Linked DNA regions of Homo sapiens: region 1 is linked to region 2. The links come from fine-mapping of genetic effects on gene expression. A gene starts in region 2. The other region holds a variant in brackets. All regions are shown on one strand. Distances are between the middles of the regions.

Region 1 (2,808 bases), 150 kb after region 2:
TCATTTCCTCCAAACAACCATGTGGACACAGGCTCTTGTAGAACTGACGATGTGTCCCAGTGGGAAAGTAAGTCAGAAGGTTTTCCCCAACAAAAAGCATCAAGGAGAAGCCATGATTACCCTGAAAATCATCCTCCTATTTTTTATCCCACAGAGAGATGGATGGGCATTATTGAAAATAGGCTATGAAGTTAAATCTTAGCTTACAGCTCTTTCCTCAAAAACAGCAAAGGAGTCTACTTAAGAAAAATAAACGTGTACAAAAAGAAAACATTAGCCAAAGGCAAACATGAACTACTTTGCACTCTTCTACTGTCAGAAGGTTTGTGTCCCTTTAGAACGGCTGTTGGTCTCATACTGGTTATGTCACGTTGTCCTCAAATCCGTTTTCTTGTTTGAATGCTTCCCTTTTGTAGTTAATTTTTTTCTTTAATTTCTGAGGACCCAAGCTGGAGGCACTGTCCTCTCTCACAGGTATTGCTAGTCTACAAAAGGATCGTTGGATGAAAGGATCCCTTCAGGGCAGAATATTGATAAGAAGGAGAAAGGGGAATGTTAAAAATAAATATAAAATATTCATAGAAAGCCAAAATGAAGAATTCATACCAGGTGAGTTCTGTTGAAACACAAACATATAAAAACGTCAACCACCCTGTGGTACACTGAATAACGGGCTCCCAAAGACATCCCTGTCCTAATCCTCGGAACCTGTGGGTGTTTCCTTATATGGCAAGGGGGACTTGCAGATGGGATTAAGGTAAAGAAAGATCTTGAGATGGAAAAATTCTTCTGGATTTTGGGCTGGGCCCTAAATATATTCTTAAGTGTCCTCATCAGAGGGAAGCAGAGGGAGATGGGACCACAGAGGGAGCGGGAGATGTGCTGACTGAAGCAGGAAGCTCGAGCCAAGGAACGCAGGAGGCCTGCAGATGCCAGGAAAGGTAAGGAAACAGATTCTCCCCTGTCTCCCCCAGAAGGAATCAGCTCTACCAACACTTTGACTTTAGCCCAGTGAAACCAATTTCTGACACCTGGCCTCTGCAACTATAAGAAAATTAATGTGTGTTGTTTTAAGCCACTAAGCCTGTAGAAATTTATCATAGCAGCCATAGGAAACTAATACACATCCTGGTACAAGGAGCGATGGAAAGAGAAGTCACAGTGGCTTTGTGAAGCACTCATTTATATGTTGCTGTCAGACATTTCTGGTTTTCTATGAGGATTTAGAGGACTTTAATTATTCTTTATAATGTTAAGTTTTTCCTCAGTTTAAAATTGTAGTGTTGGCCGGGCGAGGTTGCTCATGTCTGTAATCCCAGCACTTTGGGAGGCTGAGGCAGGCGGTTCACTTGAGGCCAGGAGTTCAAGACCAGCCTGGCCAACATGGTGAAACCCTGTCTCTAATAAAAATACAAAAAATAGCCAGGCATGGTGGTGCACGCCTACAGTCCCAGCTACTTGGGAGGCTGAGGCATGAGAATCACTTGAACCCGGGAGGCGGAGGTTGCCATAAGCCAAGATCATGCCATTGCACTCCAGCCTGGGTGACAGAGTGAGAGTCTCTCTTGGGG[G/GA]AAAAAAATTGTATTGTTGTGAGGGATATGGAAGTAACACGACCCAGATTTGAAGTTTTGGTTTATCCAAAGCAAATCCAGCATTTGGTGCATTGATGCCCATTTAGGGGGTGCTATGTTTTCTCAACTCCCCAGGGTGCCGCGTGGCATAGAATAGCATGAGGTCATCTTTAGACTTGTTGAATGAGTGAAGGGTTAAGGAGATCTCCTGTGCAAGGGAAACTAATGTCTTACCACTGGTAAAATCTAACAACCAAAGGCCACTACTTTGTCTCAGGCAGTTGGGAAGAAAAAAATATTCCCATACAGGTTTTGAGCTTTCTTTGTTGATTTACATATAACATAATTTGTTTCCTTTGGTCAATGTTTTCCCTTTGTATAGGAAACTCAGACTCTGAACAGCAAACCTAATTGTTTTTCTTTAGAGTTTTTATTTTTTCGTAAGATCTGGAGGTCTGCTGAGTAAGTCAGGATTTGACTGACAAATTGAAATATTAATTATAAAGTGTTAAAGGCCATGCCTGGTACATGGTAATTGCCATATAAGTGTTTGTTAAATAAATTTGTATTCTCCCAAAGTAAACTCATAAATCAAGAAGTTAGGCATTCCATTTTAGGAACCTCTGAAATTTAACCTAAGAGAAAATGTGAAAATAACTTCAAAAAGCAGCTTGAAAGAAAAGACCCATCAGGAGCCCAGGCACTTCTGTAGCACATGATTTCCCCACACTCCCTGCACATGACTTCCCCACACTCCCTTTCAAAAAAGAATGATATATTTTGCTGGATTCCATTAGAATCTATTGTGTGGGAGCAGCTGCCTCAGACATCAGTGATGTGAAAAAATCTTCCCTGATTAGTGAATACTAAATCATTTTCTTCTCTAACTAAGAAAGTTGGCTTTAATTAAAAAAAATTTTTTTTTGAGAGGGAGTCTTGCTCTGTTGCCCAGGCTGGAGTGCAGTGGTGCGATCTCAGCTCACTGCAACCTCTGCCTCCTGGATTCAAGTGATTCTCCTGCCTCAGCCTCCCTCAGTAGCTGGGATCACAGGCGTGCACCACCATGCCTGGCTAATTTTTGTGTTTTTAGTAGAGACAGGGTTTTGCTATGTTGGCCAGGCTGGTCTTGAACTCCTGACCTTAGGTGATCTGCCTGCCTTAGCCTCCCAATGTGCTGGGATTACAGGCATGAGCCACCATGCCCGAGCTAATTAAAATTTCTGATCCAGAAGGATGC
Region 2 (2,770 bases):
GCTGGGACTACAGGCAACTGCCACCATGCTCAGCTAGTTTTTTAATATTTTTAGTAGAGATGGGGTTTCACCATGTTGGCCAGGCTGGTCTGGAACTCCTGACCTCAAGTGATCCGCCCACCTCGGCCTCCCAAAGCGCTGAGATTACAGGCCTGAGCCACTGCGCCCGGCCTTTCTCTTCTTTTTCATGATATACTACTGGATTTGTCTGTGCTTGTAATTATTTTAGCTGTTTATTAGTTTATTACAAAAAAATGGTACTGTACCTTTATGGGAATAATTAGCACCTATGTGAATATTTAAGTTACCGATTTTGGCAAATGTGAAGTCCAAGTTGTCTTGTTTTGTTTACGTTTATATCCTCTCTCCCTTCTTGAGAAGACATATTTTCATTTAAAATAAACCCACTTGGCCGGGCGCGGTGGCTCACGCCTGTAATCCCAGCACTTTGGAAGGCCGAGGCGGGTGGATCACGAGGTCAGGAGATCGAGACTATTAGCCGGGCGCGGTGGCGGGCGCCTGTAGTCCCAGCTACCCCAGGGAGGCTGAGGCAGGAGAATGGCGTGAACCCGGGAGGCGGAGCTTGCAGTGAGCCGAGATCGCGCCACTGCACTCCAGCCTGGGCGACAGAGAGAGATTCCGTCTCTAAATACATACATACATACATACATACATACATAATAAATAAAATAAAATAAACCCACTCACCCCCACCCCGACTCCCCAGCTGTAGCAGGGAAGGATTAAGAAGGCGGGGTGGGGGGTGGGGGAAGCCCTGTTAGGTAGTGCTGCGTTGGGCCCACTTCTGAGGGTTTAATCCTAGTAGGGTCTTTGGAGTTCTTTCTTCGGAGGCGCGTAGCTCTGCATTATTTAAAACTGTTTCCCGCAAACCCGCAATCCCTTAGGCCAAAGGCACCCCTAACGCGGAAAGTCTACGAACGGAAATGTCCGGAGTTAGAGAGCGGCCTTTCGGGCAGCTGCCCCGACTTCTCCAAGGCCGGAGGGCCGGCTGGGAGCGCTGCAAGCCAGAGAGGGCGATCCCAGCGGGACCCGCGGCCTGAGGATAGGCCTGGAGCTGCCGCCTCCGCCAGGCGACGGGAAACCCTCGGAAGTGGGTTTCCGCGCGAAAGTAGCATTGCGGCCAGGCGGGAAACGTGTTCGCGAAGCAGGAGGGCCCCCGGGGCCTTTCCCGGGCGACCCGACCCGCCAGGCCGCGTGGCGGGAGCTTTCCTGTTGAGCGCGGTGGAGCGCACACATTTCCTTCAGTTCTTTCTCGGAAGTTTAGGCCGCACCCACCCGCGCCCCCTTTCCAGGATTATACAAGTGCACGCCAGGGTTTCTTATTTTTGGTGTGTTTTTGAGACCAAAGAACCATATCCGCTAAGCCTGAGGAGGCACCCGCCCCCTCAGCTCTGAAACGAGGCCTCAAAACGGCAACCGATGTGGTAGCCGCGCAATCTTCCGAAACCCAAAGGCTAGAGGGCGTGCCCAGTGGCCAGGTGCAGGCGGTGGGGCAAGTAACGGCTTTTGGTAGCCCCGCCCCTCCGACCCGCCCTCTCCGCGCCTGCCCATTTTCGTTCCCTCGGGTCTGTAACCCTCTCCCGGGCCGCTTCCTCTTTAAGGCGGAGCCCGGCGTGGATCTCGCGAGATCCGGCTTGGCGCCGTGACCTCCATGTGGGAGCTCCAGCTCTATAAGTAAACACTCTGCGCGGCGCAGACATGGCCTCTTCCTATCTTTGAGGCGGTGTCTGCGGCAGCGCCTCAGAGTGGTTCCGGTCGTCTCTCCTCAAGTCGGCTAGTCGGGCGCGCGCGCTGAGAGTCGTCGCCGCCTGTCGGGCCCGGCGTCCGGTCGGTCCGGTGGGCGCGCTCGCCCGCCTGCCGCTGAGGGCCCGAGCCGCAGGGAAAGCGGCGCGGGCCGGGCGGGGCGCGGCGCCCAGAGCTCAGGGGGAGACAAAGGGGACCGGTTCCTCTCTAGGCGCCAAGATGTGGATACAGGTTCGCACCATTGATGGCTCCAAGACGTGCACCATTGAGGACGTGTCTCGCAAAGCCACGATTGAGGAGCTGCGCGAGCGGGTGTGGGCGCTGTTCGACGTGCGGCCCGAATGCCAGCGCCTCTTCTACCGGGGCAAGCAGGTGAGGCGCGCCCGCCGCGCCCCTAGCGAGGCTGGGGGCCGGAACAGCTGGGCTCCTCTGGACGCACCGGTCCGAGGGCTCTGTGCGCCGCGCGCGCAGGGCTCACCTGGCTCCGCTGCGGGTGGGCAGCCCCCGCGAGGCGCGGGGTGCGGGGCCCAGTCCCGCCGAATGGTGGGGAGTGGGTCCCTGCCAGCCCCAACTGGAGGTGCGCCGCGCGGGGTCAGAAGTGAGGGCGTCCGGAGCGCAAATATCTCGCCGTTTGTATTTGGTAGGACAGCGGCCGTAGGCACTGGGTGCCCAGGTCCCTCGCTTCCCGCGCTCGGCGGGGCCTGGGGCCCCCAGAGGGCGGGGAGGGCAGAGGGCTCTGGCGGCCATGCCACCGCGCGGGAGACCCGGAGAGCTGGCTAACCCGGCTGAGCGTTCGCCTGGCTTCCGCGGCTCTTCCGCGTCTTCGGCTCTCAAACAGGGGAAACTCGGGCATTGAGCTCTCAAGAATAAGAACCCTAACTCTGCTTCCTGACTGTGGTAGGATTCGCGCAAACTGAAGATTCGAAGGGTTTCCAGAACTTCTGGTCCCTCTCCCTCGCCGCCTTTCCTAGGTTTGGAATGTCTCGAGGGAGGTTAGAGACCTGGG

Evidence for each region. PIP is the estimated chance that this variant, and not a neighbour inherited with it, causes the effect.
Region 1: its variant is fine-mapped to the expression of UHRF2 in tibial nerve (GTEx, PIP 0.97).

Annotation. Positions count from the first base shown.
Region 1 is chr9:6,560,082-6,562,889 of GRCh38, forward strand. All of the region lies in intron 16 of GLDC (glycine decarboxylase), which reads right to left. Among named protein-coding and RNA genes, the nearest start is that of GLDC, 84 kb to the right of the region's middle. The variant G/GA (reference allele first, on the strand shown) is at 1,572.
Region 2 is chr9:6,411,508-6,414,277 of GRCh38, forward strand. It overlaps UHRF2 (ubiquitin like with PHD and ring finger domains 2), which reads left to right and starts at 1,692. Exons shown (of 16, transcript NM_152896.3): 1 at 1,692-2,136. The coding sequence starts at 1,984. RefSeq lists silencers at 1,410-1,549, 1,830-2,009, 2,080-2,509.